Homo sapiens: one gene and its partners. The protein of the gene in region 2 interacts with the protein of the main gene of each other region in a biochemical or structural test. Each region holds a gene or a part of one and is shown on either strand. Other genes may lie near its edges. The genes, in order: F3, PTPA, TEP1 and TERT.

Evidence for each region.
Region 1: of the proteins of PTPA (region 2) and F3, one has a biochemical effect on the other in vitro, tested with the Homo sapiens proteins (one study listed by BioGRID).
Region 3: of the proteins of PTPA (region 2) and TEP1, one has a biochemical effect on the other in vitro, tested with the Homo sapiens proteins (one study listed by BioGRID).
Region 4: of the proteins of PTPA (region 2) and TERT, one has a biochemical effect on the other in vitro, tested with the Homo sapiens proteins (one study listed by BioGRID).

What each region holds. Positions count from the first base shown.
Region 1 is NC_000001.11:94,538,757-94,545,633, reverse strand, and holds the start of F3 (tissue factor isoform 1 precursor), read left to right. Parts: upstream 1-3,874; 5' UTR 3,875-3,997; coding exon 3,998-4,097; intron 4,098-5,265; coding exon 5,266-5,377; intron 5,378-6,877. UniProt on the Homo sapiens protein: Initiates blood coagulation by forming a complex with circulating factor VII or VIIa. The [TF:VIIa] complex activates factors IX or X by specific limited proteolysis.
Region 2 is NC_000009.12:129,128,414-129,135,435, forward strand, and holds part of PTPA (serine/threonine-protein phosphatase 2A activator), read left to right. Parts: intron 1-571; coding exon 572-697; intron 698-3,108; coding exon 3,109-3,226; intron 3,227-6,381; coding exon 6,382-6,481; intron 6,482-7,022. UniProt on the Homo sapiens protein: PPIases accelerate the folding of proteins. It catalyzes the cis-trans isomerization of proline imidic peptide bonds in oligopeptides. Acts as a regulatory subunit for serine/threonine-protein phosphatase 2A (PP2A).
Region 3 is NC_000014.9:20,410,486-20,418,495, reverse strand, and holds the start of TEP1 (telomerase protein component 1), read left to right. Parts: upstream 1-4,994; 5' UTR 4,995-5,091; exon of another isoform or gene 5,092-5,125; intron 5,126-8,010. UniProt on the Homo sapiens protein: Component of the telomerase ribonucleoprotein complex that is essential for the replication of chromosome termini. Also a component of the ribonucleoprotein vaults particle, a multi-subunit structure involved in nucleo-cytoplasmic transport.
Region 4 is NC_000005.10:1,278,069-1,285,090, reverse strand, and holds part of TERT (telomerase reverse transcriptase), read left to right. Parts: intron 1-2,466; coding exon 2,467-2,662; intron 2,663-4,752; coding exon 4,753-4,933; intron 4,934-5,620; coding exon 5,621-5,800; intron 5,801-6,294; coding exon 6,295-6,450; intron 6,451-7,022. UniProt on the Homo sapiens protein: Telomerase is a ribonucleoprotein enzyme essential for the replication of chromosome termini in most eukaryotes. Active in progenitor and cancer cells. Inactive, or very low activity, in normal somatic cells.

The DNA of each region.
Region 1 (6,877 bases), on a different chromosome or scaffold from region 2:
GGTAGTTTGATAAGCTTTACGTTTATAAAAATAGATGTCTGCTGAAAATACCAATCCCAGTCTAAGACTTGAATTGGAAGGTTTTTCTCTAAAGTTACATTTTTCAGAATACTGGTGCTATGTGATAACTCATTTAGCAAAGCTTCTTGTAAGCTGTTCTAGACAGTTGATAGAAGTATTTTGAATGACCAGGATAATAGATTTTATCATACTGACTTTCAACTGTTTAATTTTGGTCTAAATGAACTGTTGGACTAGTATATTGCTATTTTCACAAAATGCATAATCATGACTGCCAATTTTTCCATGACTAACTATACCCAGCCAGATGTTTCTTAGGTTCTGCTGAGTCACTTTTTTCCTTTTCCTCCAGAACTCTGTGTTCCTACTAACTCCTAATTCCCTCTGGCCTTTTCTCATACTTTGCCTTTTACCTGAATTTTGGGTAATGGTTTCATTGCTCTTTTTACCATTTCATATGCATAAAATAAGTTTCTCTGAATTATTCTCAATTTTACTTGCTATCATGTATCTTAACCTATCTCTTTCCTGGGAAATAAACATTTTGAGGAATTTGTTTTAAAAAGTTATTCAGCCTCTGTATGCAAGGAAAACTATCAACAACCTCATCGCATGATGAAGTATATTCTGAATCATCGTAGAATCCAGTCTTTTAAAAAAATGCTAGCTAGTTTCCAAACTTCTGTATCTGGTTTCTGCTTCTCAGCTATCTCTCCTCCTGGTGAGATTTTCTGGTGGTGCAGAGATAGCTAATCACTGGTTAGACTGCTAGAACTTGCGGTCGAGTGGTGCCTTTCCAGTCATGATGGATTTGTATTTTCTTACCAATCTCAGCATCATGAAACACTCACTGCCTGGCCCCTAGAAAGAGTTTTCAGTGACAGATTTCATCTCTTGAACACCAGTGAAATATTTGGTTGCACTCATAGTTTTATAAAGTATTCATTGACTCAAAAGGTATTAAGTGCCTATTATGTGCTGATAATTGTGGAAAGGGTTGAGAGAGGAAAAAAACAGACAAAAAACCCAATCCAACAGGAAAGATTAACAGGTAAACACACAAGTGAGATTAAGTGAAGTTCTCAATGAAAATGAGTCGGTAAAATTGGCAGCAAGTACTATAAAAGTACAGTGGAAGGGCTGAAACATCTCCGCAGTTATTTTCAGACTTCTCATCAACCACATTTCATCACTGGTTATGCAAAGGGAATTCAAACTCTTCTACGTGTCTCCTTGTCTGTCTATTTCAAGGACTAACCATCAGGATATTTCTGCCTAAGAACAATGAGTTCCCCAAACTGCAAAGTATTTTCTATACTTTGTGTGCAGTTTTTGTGCAGTTTTGCACTTTTCTGCACTTTGTGTACATGCAGAACATTTTTGAGTGCTTATGGATGGATTAATTAATCATTCATTTGATGGATTTACCACCCAGTCTTACTTTCCTTCATTGGGAGTAGGAGAAAGCCTGGTGATGGAAGGAAAGCCCCCGGGGTCAGAAGACCAGATCTGCACTGTGTGGTTAGGCAAGCCAGTTTACTCAGATCAGCTGGCCACAGGGTTCTCATCCATAAAAGAATGTCTGTGAGGTTCTCCCATCCTCTGACATCCTAAAATCCAATGAGAAAGGGACTGGTCAAGCCAGAGAGATTATTGTTATAGTTTAGTAACTTTTTGAACTTCTCAGAGCCTCCAAGATAGATCATGGAGGAGGGAACTGTTAACTGCTAAGCTTGACTTTACTGACAGGAGTAAAAAAAATTGTGTTAAGGTTAGGGAATAATTTTAACAGTCAATTTGTTCTTGTGAACAAATTTCAACAGTGAAATTTTAGATATGTACTTTTTAATGGTGCCAAGCAGCAGTTATTATAGATCAACTGCTGTTTGGCACCATTAAAAAGTACACTTCGCACCGTCAAAAAGTAGATCTGGCCACAATTAGATCAGTCAGGGAAAAACACTTCGCAATGAAATATTATTTACCACGTTTTCTTCCTCCCTCTTCTTGAAAATAGTAATGATTTTAGCATTTTTAAATCTTGAAGAATGTCATTCCGTACTGACTAAAAAGCCTGTGCAAACACCCAACATCTTCTCTTTCCTGTCTATTTTAATGGATATACAAAATAAATATTCATCTAATTTATCAATATTTAAGGCACATTGTGTATCACAATCCAATGGTAAACATTTTTCTTATCAAATGGCTGATCTTGACATTGTTTAAAGCCCTATATGATTTCAGAAAAGTCAGTGACTCCAAGTGGAATTGCAACAATTTCTTGGGTCTTGTAACAAACCTGAAGTGTAACTATTTCTCTTCAGCTACCTTCAATCCCAGAGAGCAAAGAATCACATCCCAGGTGGAGCTGAAGATCTCTTAGGGAAAATGACTCAGGCTAGAGCCTGCATAAAAAGAGGATTGCATGGCTTAGTTTTGCAAACATAAATTTTGTGGGTTTCAGAGCTGGCAGAGAGCTCAAAGAGGAAATCATCAAGGGCAACTTTCTGCTTCGAGGAAGGAAAGTCTACAAGGGCTAAACCTGGATGTGCTATTTCAGTTCAGGCAAAGGAGGAAAATTAAAATTTTGCACAGTTTTATTCTGTTAAAACAAGTGGTTCAGTAAGCTAAACGAGATATGTATATAGTATGCATTAAAATGCAAGACTGACTTCCCTGGGAAAACGTGGGAAAGAAGGAGAGAGGAAACAAACAATTCTTACACTAAGAATTCTCCAGTCGTGTCTTGCAGGCAATATAGAGTAATAATAATAAAAATGACAGGAGATACTTTGACAGGATGGCTTAAAATGCCACTCAATAGATGAAGAGTTGTTCTCATGCTTGGCAAGTTTACAGCAAAGCCCAGAAGGAGAAGCCAGAAAATAATTTAGAAAAACCAAAGCTTAAAACTAGTGGCACACAACTCTGGTTACATTTTTCATTTTCATTTTTGGTTCCTCTGCATTTCGGTGGAACTCAGTCCCACAGATGTCTTCTTCAATGTGGGAACCATCCTTTCTGGAACCACAGAGCTGCAGATGTCACGCTGGAATTCTCCCAGAGGCAAACTGCCAGATGTGAGGCTGCTCTTCCTCAGTCACTATCTCTGGTCGTACCGGGCGATGCCTGAGCCAACTGACCCTCAGACCTGTGAGCCGAGCCGGTCACACCGTGGCTGACACCGGCATTCCCACCGCCTTTCTCCTGTGCGACCCGCTAAGGGCCCCGCGAGGTGGGCAGGCCAGGTATTCTTGACCTTCGTGGGGTAGAAGAAGCCACCGTGGCTGGGAGAGGGCCCTGCTCACAGCCACACGTTTACTTCGCTGCAGGTCCCGAGCTTCTGCCCCAGGTGGGCAAAGCATCCGGGAAATGCCCTCCGCTGCCCGAGGGGAGCCCAGAGCCCGTGCTTTCTATTAAATGTTGTAAATGCCGCCTCTCCCACTTTATCACCAAATGGAAGGGAAGAATTCTTCCAAGGCGCCCTCCCTTTCCTGCCATAGACCTGCAACCCACCTAAGCTGCACGTCGGAGTCGCGGGCCTGGGTGAATCCGGGGGCCTTGGGGGACCCGGGCAACTAGACCCGCCTGCGTCCTCCAGGGCAGCTCCGCGCTCGGTGGCGCGGTTGAATCACTGGGGTGAGTCATCCCTTGCAGGGTCCCGGAGTTTCCTACCGGGAGGAGGCGGGGCAGGGGTGTGGACTCGCCGGGGGCCGCCCACCGCGACGGCAAGTGACCCGGGCCGGGGGCGGGGAGTCGGGAGGAGCGGCGGGGGCGGGCGCCGGGGGCGGGCAGAGGCGCGGGAGAGCGCGCCGCCGGCCCTTTATAGCGCGCGGGGCACCGGCTCCCCAAGACTGCGAGCTCCCCGCACCCCCTCGCACTCCCTCTGGCCGGCCCAGGGCGCCTTCAGCCCAACCTCCCCAGCCCCACGGGCGCCACGGAACCCGCTCGATCTCGCCGCCAACTGGTAGACATGGAGACCCCTGCCTGGCCCCGGGTCCCGCGCCCCGAGACCGCCGTCGCTCGGACGCTCCTGCTCGGCTGGGTCTTCGCCCAGGTGGCCGGCGCTTCAGGTGAGTGGCACCAGCCCCTGGAAGCCCGGGGCGCGCCACACGCAGGAGGGAGGCGACAGTCCTGGCTGGCAGCGGGCTCGCCCTGGTTCCCCGGGGCGCCCATGTTGTCCCCCGCGCCTACGGGACTCGGCTGCGCTCACCCAGCCCGGCTTGAATGAACCGAGTCCGTCGGGCGCCGGCGGGAGTTGCAGGGAGGGAGTTGGCGCCCCAGACCCCGCTGCCCCTTCCGCTGGAGAGTTTTGCTCGGGGTGTCCGAGTAATTGGACTGTTGTTGCATAAGCGGACTTTTAGCTCCCGCTTTAACTCTGGGGAAAGGGCTTCCCAGTGAGTTGCGACCTTCAATATGATAGGACTTGTGCCTGCGTCTGCACGTGTTGGCGTGCAGAGGTTTGGATATTATCTTTCATTATATGTGCATCTTCCCTTAATAAAGAGCGTCCCTGGTCTTTTCCTGGCCATCTTTGTTCTAGGTTTGGGTAGAGGCAATCCAAAAGGGCTGGATTGCTGCTTAGATTGGAGCAGGTACAACGTTGTGCATGCCCCGTATTTCTACGAGGTGTTCGGGACGGCGTAGAGACTGGGACCTGCTGCGTACTGGCAAAGCAGACCTTCATAAGAAATAATCCTGATCCAATACAGCCGACGGTGTGACAGGCCACACGTCCCCGTGGGTCTCTGTGGAAGTTTCAGTGTAGCGACATTTCAGATAAAAGTGGAAAAAGTGAAGTTTGGCTTTTTTCATTTGTATGCAGTCCTAACTCTTGTCACACGTGTGGGATTTATCTTTTTCCATAACTTACTGAAAACCCTTCCTGGCGGGCTGAACCTGACTCTTCCTGAGCTGAGTCCTGGACTGGCACACTGATGGCTCTGGGCTCTTCCCGGTCAAGTTATAACAAGGCTTTGCCCATGAATAATTTCAAACGAAAATGTCAAGATCCTTGCCGGTGTCCTGGGATTACAAGGTGAATCTTGTCATGAAGAAATTCTAGGTCTAGAAAAAATTTGAAGATTCTTTTTCTCTTGATAATTCACTAATGAAGCTTTTGTGGTTGAAAAATAAAAAGTGAGGTTTATGGTGATGTCAGGTGGGAAGGTGTTTTATACATCAATACATTCGAGTGCTCTGAAGTGCATGTAATAATAGCTGTTTCTCTGTTGTTTAAAGGCACTACAAATACTGTGGCAGCATATAATTTAACTTGGAAATCAACTAATTTCAAGACAATTTTGGAGTGGGAACCCAAACCCGTCAATCAAGTCTACACTGTTCAAATAAGGTAAGCTGGGTACAGAAAAAGAAAATTAAGGTCTTTGATGTTTCTACTGTCCTATGCTGAACAAGAATGTCTTTAAAGCTGATTACTGGATGAAATTATTTAACAGATGACGAAGAAGAAGGGATTCTTGGCAATTCGCTGGCCGGTGTCATACTCTATTAGGCCTGCAACATTTCCAGACCTTAAACTGATAGAACATTTTAATTGTTTTAATTGTTTTTGGAAATGATGGGAGAGTTCCTAAGTGGAGTATAAACTGTGGAGAGATGAACCATCTTGAGTAGGCACTGAAGTGTGCTTTGGGTCATGATAGATTAATTAATCTCATCTAAACATTGATGTCTTTTTCTGTTGCTGTCTAGACTGTGAACAATGTCTAACACCTTAGGGAAGAGGTGGGGAGGAATCCCAATGTATACATTGCCCTTAAGCAGTGTTTGATTCATTCATCTTTGGACTCCATGAATCGAAATCTGGTAGAATACATGATCTTAGTGGAGGAGGCCAAATGCGTGACTCACTGAGCCTGGCAGAGCAGAAATACTCTGCTGTCTGCACCCTCTGGGTCTGGTGTGGCTCTGCTTCTTGGTGCCTCAACTCTGACTGGCAGCTGTCCCCAGGAGGCGATAATTCAGCATGTTCAATCTAAAGGTTATGACTTCCTTGATGGTTTTCACCATATTCTTGGCAAGTTTTTGGTTTTTGAAATGTTCTAGGAGGCTTGGTAGAGATCTTATGAAATAGAGAATAGCTGCTGTGGAAATTATTTTAATGCTAATTACATAAAAGTACAAAAGTAGCACTAGCTAAAACAAAAGGTATTTTGCTGTTCTGTTTTGTTTTAGCTTGTGCCAGGCCTTTTACAGCATTAGGAATGCAACTTCTAGATAACGATGCATCTTTTAAGTGAATGTTCTTGTTTTTCAAAATGAACTTCATGACAGTAGTTGCCAAACCAGCAAGGAGAACTTGCATGCATACGTGCATGCATGTGTGGATATGTATGGGGGTGGGGGGAGAGAAAGATGAAGGAATTTCATAACATGAAATAATGATTACAGTTCTGGTCAAACTTGTCAATTCAGATTTCACCAATTGAGAATTAGTAAGTAATTTCTCTGATACAGGCCTGAAGTTTACCTTAGTAAACACTTTACTTCCATATGGTAAAAATTAGATTTTGGGAGGAATGCTTACCTCCTAAATATATTCAATCTAATATTTGAGGGACACATGGGAATATATTTATGATTCATCTGCTTTTTAAACATAAGCCTTTGTTAACTGTAAGTTCTTGAACTTTATAAGGCTGCTGTTATTTAAATGAGCACAGCTCCTGATCTGCAAACAGCAGAGCGCAGGGCTACAGCTTGGGGGATGCCAGCCGACTCAGGGTGGTCCTATGGACTGAACAATCTCTTGCTGCTGTACTGGAGGGCCTGGGAGCTTTTCCATCAGCCTCGGCCTGAGGTGTGCACTCTTCTCCTGCCCACCCCAGGA
Region 2 (7,022 bases):
TAGTCCCAGCTACTTGGGAGGCTGAGGCAGGAGAATCGCTTGAACCTGGGAGGCAAAGGTTGCAGTGAGCCGAGATTGCACCACTGCACTCCAGCCTGGGCAACAAGAGCGAAACTCTGTCTCAAAAAAAAAAAAAAAAAGTTTAGTGTATTTCTGGGTGGCAGGATTACTGGTCATTTTCATTTTCTTCTGTTTATATTTCTATTTTTTATGATGAGTAGGTATTGCATACTGAACAAAAGGCTTCCATAAAGTCTTTTTAAAAAGATGTCAGGGCTGGAGTTAGCTTCTCTATAGCAGCAGCCCATGGGTAGGCTGCCTACAGAAACCAGGTGCTAAAGCCACCCCGTCCCTGTCCCATCAGCCTAGTGTGCTTCCCTCTCTGGAAAGCCTATCATGCTCTCCTGACCCTCCTTCATATTCAGAACAGTGGGGAAGAAAGAGGGATGGGGGAGAGTTCCCAGTAGGGGCCATGCCAAGGGGTCATTGTCTGGCAGCAGTGGACTTCCCTCTGTGGCTAAGCGGGAGCCACTTGCTCTGTAGCTTGGACCCCTCTATTTTGCCTCCACAGGCCATTGAGAAACTAGTCGCTCTTCTCAACACGCTGGACAGGTGGATTGATGAGACTCCTCCAGTGGACCAGCCCTCTCGGTTTGGGAATAAGGCATACAGGACCTGGTATGCCAAACTTGATGAGGTGAGGCTGCCACAGGACAGGCCAGGGACTGGGCTGGCAGTGAGGGTGGTTCTGGCACCAGTTGGGGAAGGGCCTGCATTGTATAGCGCTTCTAGGCATATACAAATCTCAGTTTGTTAAAATGTCAATTTCACTTAGCAAAATTACAAATGAGTTTATACTCTGCTTGGTCATCTTCTGGGAAACACGACTGTGCACATACGGCCCTCTGCACTACAAGGCTGTTTATTAAGTCACTGTATTACAGCAAACTGGAAATGTTCCAAGTATCCATCTGTAGGGGATTATTTAAATAAATTAGTCCATCAATATCATGGAGTACTGTGCAGCTATAAAAAGGAATTTTTTTTATTTTTTATTTTATCTTTTTTTTTTTTTAGACGGAGTCTCGCTGTGTTGCCCAGGCTGGAGTGCAGTGGCGCAGTCTTGGCTCACTGCAAGCTCCACCTCCTGGGTTCACGCCATTCTCCTGCCTCAGCCTTCCGAGTAGCTGGGACTACAGGCACCCACCACCACGCCCGGCTAATTTTTTGTATTTTTCGTAGAGACGGGGTTTCACCGTGTTAGCCAGGATGGTCTTGATCTCCTGACCTTGTGATCCGCCCATCTCGGCCTCCCAAAGTGCTGGGATTACAGGTGTGAGCCACCACGCTCGGCCCCAAAAAGGAATTTTTTTCATAGCTGGGCACGGTGGCTCATACATGTAATCTCAGAATTCGGGGAGGTTAAGGCGGGAGGATCACTTGAGCCCAGGAGTTTGTGAGTAGGTTGGGCAACATAGCAAGACCCCGTTACTGCAAAAAATAAGAAATGGTGGTGCACACCTTTGGTCCCAGCTGCTTGGGTGGCTGAAGCAGGAGAATGACTTGAGCTCTGGAGTTTGAGGCTGCAGTGAGCTATGATGGAGCCATTGCACACCCACTTGGAATGCTAGCTGCATACTCCATGGTGTGGATGGACTAGTCTATTGAACTGATCCTCTACTGATGTTTTTATTTTTGAATCTTACGAAGGTGTTACCTATTCAAAGCAAACAAAAATAAAAATGCAGGATCTCAGACCCTGTCTAGAAAAGCAGAGTCTACAGGTCTGGGTAGGGACTGGGAACCTGGATTTTTACTAGCTTTCCAGGAGATGGCTCATGCCAGTTGTCTACAACTGAGCTTAAGGAAATTTGGGTCCTAATTGCTCTGGCCCAATATTTTCACATAGAGCAGAGGGGAGGACTCAGGACCCAGTGAAGTGCTGTTCCCAAGAGACGCCCGGGCCTGCCTCTGGACTCTTAAGATGGTACATGATCTTTTTTTTTTTTTTTTCCTGTTGTTCAGGCTGGAGTGCAGTGGCATGATCTCAGCTCCCTGCAGCCTTGACCTCCTGGGCTCAAGCAATCGTCCTGCCTCAGCCTCCCAAGTTGCTGGGACTACAGCATGCGCCACCATGCTTGGCTAATTTTTGTGTTTTTAGTAGAGACGGGGTTTCATCATGTTGGCCAGGCTGATCTCGAAATCCTGGCCTCAGGTGATCCGCCCACCTTGGCCTCCTAAAGTGTTGGAATTACAGGTGTGAGCCACTGCTCCCAGCCTTAAGTTATATCTTAAAGCTGACAAATCATAGCTTTACAGCTTGATGGATTTTTACATGTTTTTACTCATGGACTCACCACTCATGCCAAGTTTTTTACCCATGGATTCACCACTCATGTCAAGCAATAGAACATTCTAGCTGGAGTGCTCCCCTTCCCAATTGATATCGCCCAGATTATTCTGATTTCTATTCCATAAATTGATTTTTTTCCATGTTTCTGAACTTCGTATAACTCTCTGGCTTCTTTTGCTCAATGTCATGTCTGAGATTCATCCATGTTTTCATGTCTAGCTATAGGTCTTTTTCTTTGCTGTGTAGTATTCTATTGTATGAATATACCACAATTTATTCATTTCACTGTTGATGGACATTTCCATTGCATTTCCACCTTTTGGCTACTCTAAACAGTGCTGTTGTGAACATTCTTCTGCACGTCTTTTGATGGCACATGACACCAGCTCTTGCTGACCTGAGAGTGTGAAGGAAGGTGGCCTGTGTGGGAATCATAGCACTGACCTTCCAGAGTCTCTGTGGGGCTCCAGTGAGTTACCACATGGGAGGGTTGAGGCTTTTTTCCAGATTCCTCCTGTTTTGCCCCTAGACTCCTGTGCCCTGGAAAAATCAGTTGATGATAAGTCGCCTGGGTAGTCTTCTGCTGTGGAAGAATAAATGCTGTCCCTCCCCTTCCTTCTGTGGCCTGTCAGAACAGGAACCAAGCTGGCCTGGCAAGGCAGTGTGGGCCCCCAGTCAGGTGCTGCCCCTGGGCACCTGCCCACTGGGATGCTGCTTAATATGCTGCCACCACTTTGTGTCTCTTGTGTTACCAGGAAGCAGAAAACTTGGTGGCCACAGTGGTCCCTACCCATCTGGCAGCTGCTGTGCCTGAGGTGGCTGTTTACCTAAAGGAGTCAGTGGGGAACTCCACGCGCATTGACTACGGCACAGGTATCTGCTGCTTGTGGGGCTCTGTACTTATCTAGCTTCACTGCTTTCTGTTTTGGGCTTCAGGTGGTCTCTGGGCCCTCTGAGCAAGTGAGAGCAATCAAGAATTCGCCAAGCACCTGCAACCTATTGGGGCCAGCTGGGGTTAGGGTGGCTTCACCGGCAGGGAGGGCGTAGGCATGCAGGGAGGCCCGGATGCTGCAGCTCTGCTGTGGTCCACCAGGGGGAGCTGATGCCCCGTGCATGGTGCTTGCGCAGCGCTGCTTTCTGTTCTTGTGAAAATGGTCTCTGAGCTCCTCATCATCACCAAAATAATTATTAATTGAGCACTTACTGTGTGTCAAGGCAGCAGCTTACTGAAGCTTTGAGAAATGGGAACGCTTCTTGGTGGCCTTTGCAGTGTCGTGGCACACCCTCTCCCTTGAACCCCTTGTCTCTTAGCCACATTCTCTGTGCTATTGGGCTGTTTGGATCTGTGGTCCATGTAAGCCAAGGGACCTGGACTTTGAGGAGAGGGAGTGTGTGGACACTTTAAAAGGGAAGTGTAGACAGGTGCAGTGGTGCGTGCCTGTAATCCTAGCACTTTTGGAGGCTGAGGGGGAGGATTGCCTGAGCTCAGGAGTTTAAGACCAGCCTAGGCAACGTAGCAAGACTCCATCTCTTTTTTAAAAATTTATTTTAAGTTATTTTTATTTATATATTTATTTTTTTGAGACAGGGTCTTGCTTTGTCACCCGGGCTGCAGTGCAGTGATGTGATCTTGGCCCACTGCAGCCTTGACCTCCCGGGCCCAAGTGATCCTCTCACCTCTGCATCTCCCCACTCCCCAGTACCTGGGACTACAGGTGTGCACCACCAGCCTGGCAATTTATTTATTTATTTGAGACAGAGTCTCACTCTGTTGCCCAGGCTGGAGTGCAGTGGCATGATCTTGGCTCACTGCAACCTCCACCTCCTGGGTTCAAGCGATTATTCTGCTGGGACTATAGGCACACACCACCATACCTGGCTAATTTTAGTGTTTTTGGTAGAGACAGGGTTTCACCATGTTGGCCAGGCTGGTCTCGAACTCCTGACCTCTGGTGAGGTCACTTCTCCACCCACCTTGGCCTCCCAAAGTGCTGGGACTGGGATTACAGGCGTGAGCCACTGCGCCCAGCTGATTGTTTTGTATTTTTTGTAGAGATGGGGTTTTGCCATGTTGCCTGGGCTGGTCTTGAACTCCTGAGCTCAAGCTGTTCTCCCACCTCAGCCTCCCAAAGTGCTCAGATTACAGGTGCAAGCCACCATGCTGAGACCCCATCTCTCAAAAATATAAAAGGGAGGTGTTCTCTAGGTCAGGGCATGGCCTGTGGAGCCACCATGCTGAGACCCCATCTCTCAAAAATATAGAAGGGAGGCATTCTCTGTGTCAGGGCACGGCCTGTCGAGCCACCATGCTGAGACCCCATCTCTCAAAAATAGAGAAGGGAGGCGTTCTCTAGGTCAGGGCCTGGCCTGTGCAGCTAAGGAGGACCTCTGCTTTGGTGAGGGCCCGCCTTCCTTCCCTGAGGCAGGCAGATGGGGCACCGCTCAGCCCTCCCCTTGTCTGGGGAATGTGATCCACAGGAGGGAGCCCCAGCCACAGAGGCAGGCCCTGGAGAAGGGCCCTCTTGGACCGGGTGGGGCTTTGACTAAGACCAGCAGGAAAAGATCAAAGAGGGAAGACTGGCCAGGTCAGCAGGGGTTGGTGCCCCAGCTGCATGTGAACCCCTGAACAATGGGAGCCTGGGCCCTGTCTGGTCATAATTGGAAACTGTGGCAGGGGAAGGAAACTGAGCTCACAAGCTTCCAGGCCCTGGAGGGGTCTTCGTCCTCCAGAGACAGGACAGAAGTATTCTCTGACACATTCTCTTCTCACCTCCCTCCAGATAGGTTTTGTGTGACATTGTGAACAATGGGATTCAATCACAGTCCAGTGAGTTGTTCCTACAGTGCAGACCATTCCTGTTTGATATGACTGGGAAAGGAAGGAGGATACTTTTTCACCCTGTAATCTGATCATGTGTTCCCTGCTTAGAAGCCTGCAGTGGCTCCCTATTGCTCTTAGGGTAAAGTCTGAGCTCTTTCCTATGGCCAAAAGGCCCATGTGACCTGTAGCCTCCTGTCATTACACGTTCTCCCTTGCTCTCACTGCCTTCGACATACTGGCCTCCTTAGTGTTCCTCAAACAGATCAAACTTTTTCTTGCCTCAAGGCCTGTGCACATGCTATTCCTTCTGGCTAGAATGCATTTCTTGCTTCCCTCACTCCCTTTGCCTTGCCAGCTCACATCTTTCAGATTTCAGATTAGATGTTACTTCCTTAGGGGAAACCTTGAACCCTTACGTCAGGGTCCTTCTGTGATATCCTCCAGTTAGTACCCTGTCTTTCTCCTTCAGAGCTGGAATCATAGTAGTGACTGTATATTTATAATGTCTGTTGTCCCTGATAGATCATAAACTTTCTGAGGGCAAGGACTTACTTGTCACTGTCTCCTAGTGCGTAACATGGACAGTGACTGCTTACATAGTAGGTGCTCAGTAAATATGGTGGAATTGCTGAGTGAGTTAAACCTACGTAATGAAATGTAAATGTCCAGCCCGGGTCTTTTACGAGTGGAATTATAGTACTGGTAGTTCTTTTTTTTTTTTTTTTTTTTTTTTTTTTGAGACAGTCTCACTTTGTCACCCAGGCTGGAGTGCAGTGGCCTTATCATGGCTCACTGCAGCCTCAACCTCCTGGGCTCAGGAGATCCTCCATCTCAGCCTCCTGAGTAGTTGGGACCACAGGCACATGCCACCATGTCTGGCTAATTTTTGTATTTTTTGTAGAGACAGGGTTTTGCCATGTTGGCCAGGCTGATCTCAAACTCCTGAGCTCAAGCAAGCTGCCTGCCTCAGCCTCCTGAAGTGCTGGGATTACAGGCATGAGCCACCATGCACGGCCAGTACTGGTATTATAGTTCTTGAAAGGAAAGGGCCTAGCAAGTCTTTCTGAATGGGGAAGAGGTCTCATTGTCTCCATGTTGACCACCCTCCTCAGAGGGGCACTTATCAATGATTCGGATTCTGGGAGACTAAAACAATCCCAGTCCTTTACCTGGACTACTGTCAACGCTGGTTGTTTTTCTCCTCCAGGGCATGAGGCAGCCTTCGCTGCTTTCCTCTGCTGTCTCTGCAAGATTGGGGTGCTCCGGGTGGATGACCAAATAGCTATTGTCTTCAAGGTGTTCAATCGGTGAGAGAAAGGACAGGAGGGTTGGAGGAGGGGGCGTGAGGGGCCATCTGTTTCCTCCTCAAACTGGGAAATGGGGTGCTCTAGGGTTCTCCTGAGTAGCTCATGGTTCTCTTGTCCTGTCCTAATCAAGCTCTGGCTGTGGATGGAGTGTCCAAGCCTTTTTTCCAACAGGTTCAAATTAACCTCCAAGTAAAAGCAAGTGAAAGAATTGTCACATAGGCCGGGCGCGGTGGCTCACGCCTGTAATCCCAGGACTTTGGGAGGCCCAGGCAGGCGGATCACGAGGTCAGGTGTTCGACACCAGCCTGGCCAACATGATGAAACCCCGTCTCTACTAAAAATACAAGAATTAGCTGGGCGTGGTGGCACTCGCCTGTAATTCCAGCTACTCAGGAGGCTGAGGCAGAAGAATTGCTTGAACCCAGGAGGCGGAGGTTGCAGTGAGCTGAGATCGTGCCACTGTACTCCAGCCTGGGTGACAGAGTGAGACTCTGTCTTAAAAAAAAAAAGAATTGTCACATAATGTCTGCCAGTATTGACA
Region 3 (8,010 bases), on a different chromosome or scaffold from region 2:
GGCATGTTGTATACATTTTACCCATGTACTAGCACTATTCTTTGACAGGGGATTAGCAGATGTTTGTTGATCAAAGTAGAGGAGGACAATGAACATGCAAGAAAACTGACCACAAGTGAGCAATTTTAACAGGTGGTAGGACCCTTCCCAAAAGGGAAGACTGAGGGGGTGGCACTCCTTTGTCCCAGAGACAAATCTGGATATTACACCCATCAGTTGGCCATCGCAGCTCAATGCTACTAATCAACAGTAAGGTGGTGTTGGCCTATATGCAGGAGAAAGTGAATGGTCCTTTAAGAACTTGCAAATAAGGAATGTAAGATGGTTCTGTGAGAGTTAAGTGATTTCATTCCAGTGGGAAATGGCACATCTTCCCAGCCCTGGTATAGTTATTTGATTGGCAAAACTCCTGATTTATTCTAATGATAGTCATCTGAAGAAAGATTGGTTCAACTCAAGGGAATGGCTAACTTAGGAAAGCATGACTCAAAGAAGCAAATATTGGCAATATGATTAGCACTTCCTACGGGTATGAAAAGCTGAATTTGAACATTGTGAACATCTTGCCAGTTGAAAGGTTTTCTCTGTTGCAAGGCAGAGATAGTTTATCTGGCTCCTCAAAACACAGCTGAAATGTCCTTTAGGGATCATTCAGTGGCTGTGTGATTGGAACAGAACATCTGGGAATTGGGCCAAATTTTTAATTTATATATGCAATTCAAGTGTGACAGGTGCATTATTTACTACCTACCTCTGCCATGTGGTAGGTAGTAACTATCGCTTCTGTTTAGGTAATCATCCTAGATTAATAGTTTTTTAAATGTTTACCTCAGATCAGAGATAAGAGTCATGATTACCTGAGAAATTGCTGGAAGTGCAAATTCTCAGGTTCCATCTCAGACCTACCTACTGAATCAGAAATTTTCAAAAGAGATGAGCAACAATCTTCGTTTTAATCAGAGCTTTTTTTTTTTTTTGAGACAGGGTCTTGCTTTGTCACCCAGGTTGCCAGGGCACGAACACAGCTCACTGCCGCCTCGACTTCCTGGACTTAAGCAATCCTCCTGCCTCAGCTCCAGAAGTAGCAAGGACTACAGGTGTGGGCCACCATGCCTAGCTAATTTTTTTTTTTTTTTTTGGCATCTTTTATAGAGACAGGGTTTCACCATGTTGCCCAGGCTGGTCTCAAACTCCTGAGCTCAAGTGATCTGCCCGCTTAGCCTCCCAAAGTGCTGGGATTATAGGCATGAGCCACCACACCCTGCCTAATCAGGGGTTCTTAAATTTAAGCATGTACCAAAACCAACCGGACAGCTTGTTAAAATACAAATCACTGGGCCCTGACCACAGTGTTTGGAAATATAGATTCTCAGGTTCCACCCCACTTGTCTGGATCAGTGTTTCTCAAACTTTAATGTGAGTGGGAATAACCTGAAAATATTGTTAAAAGATTCTGATTCAGTAGATCTGGGGTAGAGCCTGAGAGTCTGCATTTCTAACAAGGTGATGTTGATGTTGTGGTCCACAATCCCATACTTTGATTAGTGAGACCCTCGAGCAGAGGTTCCTAAACTTTTCTGCACATTAGTATCACCTGATGTCTCCATCCACTGGTGCTGCTATACCAAAATACCTGAGACTGGGTAATTTTATAGATAATAGAAATTTATTTCTCATAATTCTGGAGGCTGGGGAAGTCCAAGATCAAGGCACTAGCATTTGGTGTCTGGTGAGAACATACCTTCTTGCTGCATCTTCTCATGGCAGAAGGTGGAAGGGCAAACAAAGGAGTGATTGCTGGTTTCTTCTAGCCCTTTTATAAGGCTGCAAACTCCATTCATAAGGGCTCTGCTCTCACGACTTAATCCCTCCTAAAGACCCCAACCCTTAATATTATCACATCGCAGATTGAGTTTCAACATGAATTTTGGGGGACATATTCAGACCATAGCACCTAGGAAACTTCAAAAACTACTGATGCCTGGGTCCTACTCTGGGTGATTGCGATTTAATTGGTCTGGGGTGTGGCCTGGACTTTGGAATTTTTAAAAGATCTCCAGGTAGTTCCAGTGTACAAGCCTTGCTGGCCTTGAATCTCTTTGCTGCTTCAGGAAACCAGAAAGTAAAACTAGATCCTCAAAGCCAATCAGGAAGCCATCACCAATTGCCTTCCCTCCTGTATTGCCAGTCTTCTCAGGTCTGATATTTATGGGAATATGATGGAAGGGCTTGCATATGCTGTTCTTTCACTGGTGGGGCAGGTGTTTCCCACAGAGAGTCACAGACTACGAGGTCTTGAGGTTGGGATTATTATCTAAGGCATATTCTATGGGGAAGAGGCCTTATAAAGCTGGCCTTCAGAAGAAAGGCCCTGTGTGGACTCCTTCAATCCCTCCCCTCACTTCCTTCTCCTCAATATGCTCCCACTGTAGTCACCTCACGTAACCCTTTCTTTCAGGTTTCCTAGCTCTTGTGTTCCCTCACCAAACTCCTCTCTTTCTCCTCTAAACAGACCACTAATGAAGGTTTTCGATGTGAGTGGTACTGCCCTCTAGGGGGTGTTTTTGGCTTTCACAATAATTAGGATGATTTTACACATTTAAATGGGTAGGGCCCAGGATAGCTCAACATTCAGGAACTGTTTAGGACACTACCACACAATGAGTGACATTTCCGCATCTTTAACTTTGAATAACTTGCCAGTCATTCATGTAGCTGAAAACTTGTTTTAATTAGGATCTAACTTAATTTTTTTATTTTTTTTTTGAGTCGGAGTTTTGCTCTTGTCACCCAGGCTGGAGTGCAGTGGTGTGGTCTCGGCTCCCTGCAACCTCCACCTCCTGGGTTCAAGCCATTCTCCTGCCTCAGTCTCCCAAGTAGCTGGGATTACAGGCGGCCACCACCATGCCCGGCTAATTTTTGTATTTTTGGTGGAGACAAGGTTTCACCATGTTGGCCAGGCTGGTCTCAAACTCCTGACCTCAGGTAATCTGCCCACCTTGGCCTCCCAAAGTGCTGGGATTACAGGCGTGAGCCACCGTGCCTGACCATAATTTAATTTTAAATATAAACACAAGGCATTTTATGCGTAGTTTTAATACACACTGAACTTTCCAGGGATGCAACTACCATGAAAATCATGGGATGATCATACCTTGTTTTGTTTGAAAATCTGCCAAAAGCTATTTAGTATTCTGGAAAATCATACCACATCAGTAATTCTGTTCATGGTATTTGAATCGCCATTATAATGCCTGTATCATTCTGCATTTGTAGCTGTTACATTCCAGGTGATTTTATATACAGATGCATATATCTGAGTACCACATTGTGTCTTCTTGAATGTTATACACAAACATTTACATATCTAAACATATAGTATTTAATTATAAGTCATATTCTTTCTAGTATTCCTTTTATCTCCCATCCAAGTACTAACCAAGCCCAACCCTGCTCAGCTTCCAAGATCAGAGGAGATCGGGCGCGTTCGGGGTGGTATGGCCGTAGACTCCTTTATATCTCTTTAAGAGATTTTACTAATTTTTTGGCCAGGCATGGTGGCTTATGCCTGTAATCCAAGCACTTTGGGAGGCCAAGGTAGGAGGACTATTTGAGCCCTGGAGGTAGAGAGCCTGGGCAACATAGCAAAACCCTGTCTCTACTTTTTGTCTTTAAATTTTGGTTTAAAATTGTGCGTGGGGGTAAGTTACATTCTTTACGAATTATGTTTCAGAAAAATAAAAAGAGCTTTAAAATATTTGTTATAAAAAGGAAATGTTTTAGTTCAGGTTGCTATAACAAATTACCGTAGACCGGGTGGCTTAAACAACAAATATTATTTCTCACAGTTCTAGAGAATGGAAGTCCAAGATCAGATTGCCAGCATGGTCTGCCTCTGAAGATGAGGGTCTTCCTTGGGATTGCAGATGGCTGTTTTCTTGTATCCTCATATCGTGGAAAAAGAGCTAGCTAGCTCTTCCGTCTCTCCTTATGAGGCCACCAATCCCATTTATGAGTATTCTAAACTCCATGACCTAATGACCTCCCAGAGATCCCACCCTAAATACCATCGCATTGGGATTAGGGTTTCAATATATAAATTTTGGGGAGACACAAACATAAAGACCATTGCAGGGAGTGTTGGGACTGGTGGCAATAGAGGTTTCTAAGGAAGGAAAGGGGTACTGGCTCAGTTAATAGAGGACAGAATGCCCTCAATTCTGAGCGGAAGCTCAGCTGTTACCTGAGACTCAAGGGTACCTCTCTAAGGAAAGCAATGATATTTTCCAGAAGACAGCTAATCTGCTTTATATAAAGGCAGAAAGCATATTTCTCCTGCTACTATGTTTGGTCCTCTCTTTATGAAGCTAGGATTATTAACCTAAGGGTCACTTGTCTCTTTCCTAAGCCTGGTTCCATCTTCCTGGAAAGGGTTCAGCATTAATCATTCAGGATGGCTCCAGATAGATTCTGTGTGATCCACGGATCTCTCTTCTGATCAACAGGAGGGGAGGCACTTGCTCTCAGTTCAGCGAACTTTGATTGACTGATGTCTACACTTGGTTACAGGCGGTTGCTTTCCGCTTTCCGTCTCCTTTTAAGGAGTTCCTCAAAGGAACTTTAGGATGAATTGAGTCTGACCGTCTTTGATATTAGGAAGGAGAGGTGTACAGCTAGGCAGCGAGCATGCTAAAATCTTTTCCAGGAAACGGTGTTTGAAGAGTTAATGGGAGAAAAAAAGACGAAAATTAGCCAGAGGAGACGAATTTGGTAGAGGGGGAAGCCCTAGGGACAGGAGAAAATAGGACCAGAAAGGGAAAAAAAATAGAAACAATAACAAACTAAACTCGGGCCCCAGAAAAGGCGGCAGGGGTCCTGGGCATTCGCGTCGCAGCCCTGGCATGTCGTCTTGCCCGGCCCTCGGCTCGCTGCCCTTCCAGCAGCTGCTGCGCCCCGCCCGGGCCCGAGAGTCTCCGCCCGCACCGTCTCTTCTCAGATCCGCATCCGGCTCCTCCCCCGGCTGCCACCCTTCCCACCGGCAGAATCCAGAGCGAAGTTTCTGCTTCCTGCTGCGGGAATCGGACGCCCCAGGTCAGGCACCCAGGGTTTCCAGCCCCAGTCTAAGGTAGGGTCCGAGCGCAGGCAGAACTTGCCCTGGCCCTGGGTCTAGGGCGCTGGGCTCTGAGGCTGAGAGCTGGGTGGGAAGTGCCTGGCGGGGCCGGTTAGGAACCACCCGAGACTCAGCTAGGGGTGCATCCACCCTGCTCCTCCCGGCGGCTCCGGGAAGGGGAGGGAGTGTATACTGCGTGAAAGGGGAGGTGAGAAAGGAGGAGGAGAAGGCTGAAGGAGAGGGAGGGACAGGAAGAGAGACCACGTAAGAATCATCCCCTCTTACTTCCTTGCCCTGTGTGCCCATCGAAAGGGGACAGTGGCTGTCACCAACAAATGGTAGTATGAGAACCGTTTGTGATAATAGAAACCCAGACTGTGCTTAAATGTGCTAGACTACCATACAGCCACTTGAAGAGTGAGGTGGAGGCCGGGCGCGGTGGTTCACGCCTGTAATCCCAGCACTTTGGGAGGCGGAGGTTGGGGATCACCTGAGGTCAGGAGTTTGAGACCAGCCTGACCAACATGGTGAAAACCCTCTCTACTGAAAATACAAAAAAATTAGCCGGGCATGGTGGTGGGCGCCTGTAATCCCAGTTACTCGGAAGGCTAAGGCAGGAGAATCGCTTGAACTCGGCAGGCAGAGATTGCAGTGAGCTGAACAACAGAGCCAGACTCCGCCTCAAAAAAAAAAAAAAAAAAAAAAGGAAAGAGTGAGGTGGGTATTAATGTGTTAACAGGGCAAGGTCTCTGAGATATACTAAGTGCAGAATAGCATCTAACTTATGATCCTGTTTGTGTAAAGCAAAAGCAAAAGCAGTGGTGATGGTGAAGGCATGTATTTGCATATGCATAGAAACTGTGAAACTGTTAGTATAAAACTGTGAGCAATGTTTACTTCCAGAGAAGGGAACTAGAGATGGAAGTGGGGACGGAACTTTAACTTTCCATTTGTGGTTCAGCCGAATCTCCTTTCAAAAACTCCAGGGTGCAAAACAATAAAATGAGCAAAATAGTGAGACTGTCCTTTTAAGGATAGGACAGTCTCACTATGTTGCTCAAATAAACTGTCCTTATTTTTCTGTTTATTTTTGGCTTGAGATCTCTTTTAAAAAAAATCTGAGTCAATTCTGAGTTTCCCCACTCCTTTCCTTGGGGGCTTATATAGGGCAACGACATGAGCAAAGTGTATTGGGCACAGAAGCCATCATTTTTTACGTGTTTGTCACACTGACGTCCAGTGAGATATTGTTGTCCTTTTTGGCCCTGGATTGTTAGTCATTCAGGTCTTCTTGGAAGTGTTCTGTACTTTTGTCCCTAAGCTTTTTCACACTAAGTTTAGGTGGTTGACTTAACAATATTATTCCCAAAATATTTACATATGAATGAGAGATTAGCCTTTGTCCAAATAAGTAAGAAAATACATTCCTTTTTTTTTTTAAATAGAGGTCTCACTATGTTGCCCAGGCTGGTCTTGAACTCCTGACCTCAAGTGATTCTCCCACCTCAGCCTCCCAAAATGCTAGGATTACAGGTGTGAGCCACCACACCCAGCCAGAAAATAGGTTCCTGATGGTATAATTCAAGCATTCTGTTAGGCAGAGGTTTCTAATTTTCAGTTTATGGAGATCCTGGGAGGTCCATAAATGGGCTTCATAGACACTCTGAAAATTGAGCACAAAACAGTATATACTTTTTTTTTTTCTGTGAAAAAGCTCCATAGCTTTTACCAGATTCTCAAAAGCCTCTGAATCCCGCTGACCAGCAATTGTGGGAACAAGGCTAAAAGGGTCTCTCTCCTCAGGAACTTAATGGTCTATTGGGAAGAAAGACAAACAGGTGATGTGCTCTATGATAGGGGACATATGGGTGTTGTGAAAACAAGGAGAAGGCCACCTAAATCAGACTGGGGCTTGGTGTCAGCACAGGCTTTTTGGAGGAGTTGATGAAACTGAAGTCTGTAGAGTGAGAGGAAAGTAGCATTTGGCCTTGTAAAGGAGGGGTGGTATTGGTAGAAGAAAGAGTGTTCCAGGGATCTGCCTGTGCACAGGCCCGTAGTCAAGAGATACCTTGGCAATTAATAAGCTAAATAAAATTTGTATGATTGAAGCTTAGAGTGCTGAGGGTTAGATCGGGGTGTTAGTGAGAGATGATGCTGGGAGGTGACCGGAAGTCGGGTTTTGTGTATGATGCTGAAGATGCAGAGGGGAGCAAGACAAAGGAGCCCTTACCTTAAGGAGTTGTATTTCAGTAAAGAGAAACAATTAGGCTGGGTGCGGTGGCTCACGCCTGTAATCCTAGCACTTTGGGAGGCTGAGGTGGGTGGATCATGAGGTCGGGAGATTGAGACCATCCTGATGAACATGGTGAAACCCTGTCTCTACTACAAATACAAAAATTAGCTGGGTGTGGTGGCAGGCACTTGTAATCCCAGCTACTTGGGGGGCTGAGGCAGGAGAATTACTTGAACCCGGGAAGTCGAGGTTGCAGTGAGCTGAGACTGTGCGACTGCACTCCAGCCAGCAATAGAGTGAGACTCCGTTTCAAAAAACAAAAAGCAAAAAAAAAAAAAAAAAAAAAAAAACCACAAAGGAGAAACAATTAGCAAGTGGGCTAATAAGCAAACATGCTTAAAAAAAAAGGAGTCCGCCAGGCACAGTGGCTCACACCTGTAATCCCAGCACTTTGGGAGGCCAAGGTGGGTGGATCACAAGGTCAGGAGTTCGAGACCAGCCTGGCCAGCATAGTGGAACCCTGTCTCTTACTAAAAATACAAAAAAAAAAAAAGAAAAAAAAATCAGCTGGGCATAGTGGCGGGCGCCTGTAATTCCAGCTACTCGGGAGGCTGAGGCAGGAGAATGGATTGAACCTGGGAGGCGGAGGTTGCAGTGAGCCAAGATC
Region 4 (7,022 bases), on a different chromosome or scaffold from region 2:
TCTGGATGGTGCAGGTCAGGGGTGAGGTCTCCAGGCCCTCGGTGAGCTGGAGGTATGGAGTCCGGATGATGCAGGTCCGGGGTGAGGTCGCCAGGCCCTGCTGTGAGCTGGATGTGTGGTGTCTGGATGGTGCAGGTCTGGGGTGAGGTCACCAGGCCCTGCGGTGAGCTGGGTGTGCGGTGTCTGGATGGTGCAGGTCTGGAGTGAGGTCGCCAGACGGTGCCAGACCGTGCGGTGAGCTGGATATGCGGTGTCCGGATGGTGCAGGTCTGGGGTGAGGTTGCCAGGCCCTGCTGTGAGTTGGATGTGGGGTGTCCGGATGCTGCAGGTCCGGTGTGAGGTCACCAGGCCCTGCTGTGAGCTGGATGTGTGGTGTCTGGATGGTGCAGGTCTGGGGTGAGGTCGCCAGGCCCTGCTGTGAGCTGGATGTGTGGTGTCTGGATGGTGCAGGTCTGGAGTGAGGTCGCCAGGCCCTCGGTGAGCTGGATGTGCAGTGTCCAGATGGTGCAGGTCCGGGGTGAGGTCGCCAGACCCTGCGGTGAGCTGGATGTGCGGTGTCTGGATGGTGCAGGTCTGGAGTGAGGTCGCCAGGCCCTCGGTGAGCTGGATGTATGGAGTCCGGATGGTGCCGGTCCGGGGTGAGGTCGCCAGACCCTGCTGTGAGCTGGATATGCGGTGTCCGGATGGTGCAGGTCAGGGGTGAGGTCTCCAGGCCCTCGGTGAGCTGGAGGTATGGAGTCCGGATGATGCAGGTCCGGGGTGAGGTCGCCAGGCCCTGCTGTGAGCTGGATGTGCGGCGTCTGGATGGTGCAGGTCTGGGGTGTGGTCGCCAGGCCCTCGGTGAGCTGGAGGTATGGAGTCCGGATGATGCAGGTCCGGGGTGAGGTCGCCAGGCCCTGCTGTGAGCTGGATGTGCGGCGTCTGGATGGTGCAGGTCTGGGGTGTGGTCGCCAGGCCCTCGGTGAGCTGGAGGTATGGAGTCCGGATGATGCAGGTCCGGGGTGAGGTTGCCAGGCCCTGCTGTGAGCTGGATGTGCTGTATCCGGATGGTGCAGGTCCGGGGTGAGGTCGCCAGGCCCTGCTGTGAGCTGGATGTGCTGTATCCGGATGGTGCAGGTCTGGGGTGAGGTCACCAGGCCCTGCGGTGAGCTGGTTGTGCAGTGTCCGGTTGCTGCAGGTCCGGGGTGAGTTCGCCAGGCCCTCGGTGAGCTGGATGTGCGGTGTCCCCGTGTCCGGATGGTGCAGGTCCAGGGTGAGGTCGCTAGGCCCTTGGTGGGCTGGATGTGCCGTGTCCGGATGGTGCAGGTCTGGGGTGAGGTCGCCAGGCCTTTGGTGAGCTGGATGTGCGGTGTCTGCATGGTGCATGTCTGGGGTGAGGTCGCCAGGCCCTTGGTGGGCTGGATGTGTGGTGTCCGGATGGTGCAGGTCCGGCGTGAGGTCGCCAGGCCCTGCTGTGAGCTGGATGTGCGGTGTCTGGATGGTGCAGGTCCGGGGTGAGGTAGCCAAGGCCTTCGGTGAGCTGGATGTGGGGTGTCCGGATGGTGCAGGTCCGGGGTGAGGTCGCCAGGCCCTGCGGTTAGCTGGATATGCGGTGTCCGGATGGTGCAGGTCCGGGGTGAGGTCACCAGGCCCTGCGGTTAGCTGGATGTGCGGTGTCTGGATGGTGCAGGTCCGGGGTGAGGTCGCCAGGCCCTGCTGTGAGCTGGATGTGCTGTATCCAGATGGTGCAGGTCCGGGGTGAGGTCGCCAGGCCCTGCAGTGAGCTGGATGTGCTGTATCCGGATGGTGCAGGTCTGGCGTGAGGTCGCCAGGCCCTGCGGTTAGCTGGATATGCGGTGTCGGATGGTGCAGGTCCGGGGTGAGGTCACCAGGCCCTGCGGTTAGCTGGATGTGTGGTGTCCGGATGGTGCAGGTCTGGGGTGAGGTCGCCAGGCCCTGCTGTGAGCTGGATGTGCTGTATCCGGATGGTGCAGGTCCGGGGTGAGGTCGCCAGGCCCTGCGGTGAGCTGGATGTGCTGTATCCGGATGGTGCAGGTCTGGCGTGAGGTCGCCAGGCCCTGCGGTGAGCTGGATGTGCAGTGTACGGATGGTGCAGGTCCGGAGTGAGGTCGCCAGGCCCTGCGGTGGGCTGTATGTGTGTTGTCTGGATGGTGCAGGTCCGGGGTGAGTTCGCCAGGCCCTGCGGTGAGCTGGATGTGTGGTGTCTGGATGCTGCAGGTCCGGGGTGAGTTCGCCAGGCCCTCGGTGAGCTGGATATGCGGTGTCCCCGTGTCCGAATGGTGCAGGTCCAGGGTGAGGTCGCCAGGCCCTTGGTGGGCTGGATGTGCCGTGTCCGGATGGTGCAGGTCTGGGGTGAGGTCGCCAGGCCCTTGGTGAGCTGGATGTGCGGTGTCCGGATGGTGCAGGTCCGGGGTGAGGTCACCAGGCCCTCGGTGATCTGGATGTGGCATGTCCTTCTCGTTTAAGGGGTTGGCTGTGTTCCGGCCGCAGAGCACCGTCTGCGTGAGGAGATCCTGGCCAAGTTCCTGCACTGGCTGATGAGTGTGTACGTCGTCGAGCTGCTCAGGTCTTTCTTTTATGTCACGGAGACCACGTTTCAAAAGAACAGGCTCTTTTTCTACCGGAAGAGTGTCTGGAGCAAGTTGCAAAGCATTGGAATCAGGTACTGTATCCCCACGCCAGGCCTCTGCTTCTCGAAGTCCTGGAACACCAGCCCGGCCTCAGCATGCGCCTGTCTCCACTTGCCTGTGCTTCCCTGGCTGTGCAGCTCTGGGCTGGGAGCCAGGGGCCCCGTCACAGGCCTGGTCCAAGTGGATTCTGTGCAAGGCTCTGACTGCCTGGAGCTCACGTTCTCTTACTTGTAAAATCAGGAGTTTGTGCCAAGTGGTCTCTAGGGTTTGTAAAGCAGAAGGGATTTAAATTAGATGGAAACACTACCACTAGCCTCCTTGCCTTTCCCTGGGATGTGGGTCTGATTCTCTCTCTCTTTTTTTTTTCTTTTTTGAGATGGAGTCTCACTCTGTTGCCCAGGCTGGAGTGCAGTGGCATAATCTTGGCTCACTGCAACCTCCACCTCCTGGGTTTAAGCGATTCACCAGCCTCAGCCTCCTAAGTAGCTGGGATTACAGGCACCTGCCACCACGCCTGGCTAATTTTTGTACTTTTAGGAGAGACGGGGTTTCACCATGTTGGCCAGGCTGGTCTCGAACTCATGACCTCAGGTGATCCACCCACCTTGGCCTCCCAAAGTGCTGGGTTTACAGGCTAAGCCACCGTGCCCAGCCCCCGATTCTCTTTTAATTCATGCTGTTCTGTATGAATCTTCAATCTATTGGATTTAGGTCATGAGAGGATAAAATCCCACCCACTTGGCGACTCACTGCAGGGAGCACCTGTGCAGGGAGCACCTGGGGATAGGAGAGTTCCACCATGAGCTAACTTCTAGGTGGCTGCATTTGAATGGCTGTGAGATTTTGTCTGCAATGTTCGGCTGATGAGAGTGTGAGATTGTGACAGATTCAAGCTGGATTTGCATCAGTGAGGGACGGGAGCGCTGGTCTGGGAGATGCCAGCCTGGCTGAGCCCAGGCCATGGTATTAGCTTCTCCGTGTCCCGCCCAGGCTGACTGTGGAGGGCTTTAGTCAGAAGATCAGGGCTTCCCCAGCTCCCCTGCACACTCGAGTCCCTGGGGGGCCTTGTGACACCCCATGCCCCAAATCAGGATGTCTGCAGAGGGAGCTGGCAGCAGACCTCGTCAGAGGTAACACAGCCTCTGGGCTGGGGACCCCGACGTGGTGCTGGGGCCATTTCCTTGCATCTGGGGGAGGGTCAGGGCTTTCCCTGTGGGAACAAGTTAATACACAATGCACCTTACTTAGACTTTACACGTATTTAATGGTGTGCGACCCAACATGGTCATTTGACCAGTATTTTGGAAAGAATTTAATTGGGGTGACCGGAAGGAGCAGACAGACGTGGTGGTCCCCAAGATGCTCCTTGTCACTACTGGGACTGTTGTTCTGCCTGGGGGGCCTTGGAGGCCCCTCCTCCCTGGACAGGGTACCGTGCCTTTTCTACTCTGCTGGGCCTGCGGCCTGCGGTCAGGGCACCAGCTCCGGAGCACCCGCGGCCCCAGTGTCCACGGAGTGCCAGGCTGTCAGCCACAGATGCCCAGGTCCAGGTGTGGCCGCTCCAGCCCCCGTGCCCCCATGGGTGGTTTTGGGGGAAAAGGCCAAAGGGCAGAGGTGTCAGGAGACTGGTGGGCTCATGAGAGCTGATTCTGCTCCTTGGCTGAGCTGCCCTGAGCAGCCTCTCCCGCCCTCTCCATCTGAAGGGATGTGGCTCTTTCTACCTGGGGGTCCTGCCTGGGGCCAGCCTTGGGCTACCCCAGTGGCTGTACCAGAGGGACAGGCATCCTGTGTGGAGGGGCATGGGTTCACGTGGCCCCAGATGCAGCCTGGGACCAGGCTCCCTGGTGCTGATGGTGGGACAGTCACCCTGGGGGTTGACCGCCGGACTGGGCGTCCCCAGGGTTGACTATAGGACCAGGTGTCCAGGTGCCCTGCAAGTAGAGGGGCTCTCAGAGGCGTCTGGCTGGCATGGGTGGACGTGGCCCCGGGCATGGCCTTCAGCGTGTGCTGCCGTGGGTGCCCTGAGCCCTCACTGAGTCGGTGGGGGCTTGTGGCTTCCCGTGAGCTTCCCCCTAGTCTGTTGTCTGGCTGAGCAAGCCTCCTGAGGGGCTCTCTATTGCAGACAGCACTTGAAGAGGGTGCAGCTGCGGGAGCTGTCGGAAGCAGAGGTCAGGCAGCATCGGGAAGCCAGGCCCGCCCTGCTGACGTCCAGACTCCGCTTCATCCCCAAGCCTGACGGGCTGCGGCCGATTGTGAACATGGACTACGTCGTGGGAGCCAGAACGTTCCGCAGAGAAAAGAGGGTGGCTGTGCTTTGGTTTAACTTCCTTTTTAAACAGAAGTGCGTTTGAGCCCCACATTTGGTATCAGCTTAGATGAAGGGCCCGGAGGAGGGGCCACGGGACACAGCCAGGGCCATGGCACGGCGCCAACCCATTTGTGCGCACAGTGAGGTGGCCGAGGTGCCGGTGCCTCCAGAAAAGCAGCGTGGGGGTGTAGGGGGAGCTCCTGGGGCAGGGACAGGCTCTGAGGACCACAAGAAGCAGCCGGGCCAGGGCCTGGATGCAGCACGGCCCGAGGTCCTGGATCCGTGTCCTGCTGTGGTGCGCAGCCTCCGTGCGCTTCCGCTTACGGGGCCCGGGGACCAGGCCACGACTGCCAGGAGCCCACCGGGCTCTGAGGATCCTGGACCTTGCCCCACGGCTCCTGCACCCCACCCCTGTGGCTGCGGTGGCTGCGGTGACCCCGTCATCTGAGGAGAGTGTGGGGTGAGGTGGACAGAGGTGTGGCATGAGGATCCCGTGTGCAACACACATGCGGCCAGGAACCCGTTTCAAACAGGGTCTGAGGAAGCTGGGAGGGGTTCTAGGTCCCGGGTCTGGGTGGCTGGGGACACTGGGGAGGGGCTGCTTCTCCCCTGGGTCCCTATGGTGGGGTGGGCACTTGGCCGGATCCACTTTCCTGACTGTCTCCCATGCTGTCCCCGCCAGGCCGAGCGTCTCACCTCGAGGGTGAAGGCACTGTTCAGCGTGCTCAACTACGAGCGGGCGCGGCGCCCCGGCCTCCTGGGCGCCTCTGTGCTGGGCCTGGACGATATCCACAGGGCCTGGCGCACCTTCGTGCTGCGTGTGCGGGCCCAGGACCCGCCGCCTGAGCTGTACTTTGTCAAGGTGGGTGCCGGGGACCCCCGTGAGCAGCCCTGCTGGACCTTGGGAGTGGCTGCCTGATTGGCACCTCATGTTGGGTGGAGGAGGTACTCCTGGGTGGGCCGCAGGGAGTGCAGGTGACCCTGTCACTGTTGAGGACACACCTGGCACCTAGGGTGGAGGCCTTCAGCCTTTCCTGCAGCACATGGGGCCGACTGTGCACCCTGACTGCCCGGGCTCCTATTCCCAAGGAGGGTCCCACTGGATTCCAGTTTCCGTCAGAGAAGGAACCGCAACGGCTCAGCCACCAGGCCCCGGTGCCTTGCACCCCAGTCCTGAGCCAGGGGTCTCCTGTCCTGAGGCTCAGAGAGGGGACACAGCCCGCCCTGCCCTTGGGGTCTGGAGTGGTGGGGGTCAGAGAGAGAGTGGGGGACACCGCCAGGCCAGGCCCTGAGGGCAGAGGTGATGTCTGAGTTTCTGCGTGGCCACTGTCAGTCTCCTCGCCTCCACTCACACAGGTGGATGTGACGGGCGCGTACGACACCATCCCCCAGGACAGGCTCACGGAGGTCATCGCCAGCATCATCAAACCCCAGAACACGTACTGCGTGCGTCGGTATGCCGTGGTCCAGAAGGCCGCCCATGGGCACGTCCGCAAGGCCTTCAAGAGCCACGTAAGGTTCACGTGTGATAGTCGTGTCCAGGATGTGTGTCTCTGGGATATGAATGTGTCTAGAATGCAGTCGTGTCTGTGATGCGTTTCTGTGGTGGAGGTACTTCCATGATTTACACATCTGTGATATGCGTGTGTGGCACGTGTGTGTCGTGGTGCATGTATCTGTGGCGTGCATATTTGTGGTGTGTGTGTGTGTGGCACGTGTGTGTCCATGGTGTGTGTGCCTGTGGTGTGCATGTGTGTGTGTCTGTGACACGTGCATGTTCATGCTGTGTGCTGCATGTCTGTGATGTGCCTATTTGTGGTGTGTGTGTGTGCATGTGTCCGTGACATATGCGTGTCTATGGCATGGGTGTGTGTGGCCCCTTGGCCTTACTCCTTCCTCCTCCAGGCATGGTCCGCACCATTGTCCTCACGCTCTCGGGTGCTGGTTTGGGGAGCTCCACATTCAGGGTCCTCACTTCTAGCATGGGTGCCCCTGTCCTGTCACAGGGCTGGGCCTTGGAGACTGTAAGCCAGGTTTGAGAGGAGAGTAGGGATGCTGGTGGTACCTTCCTGGACCCCTGGCAC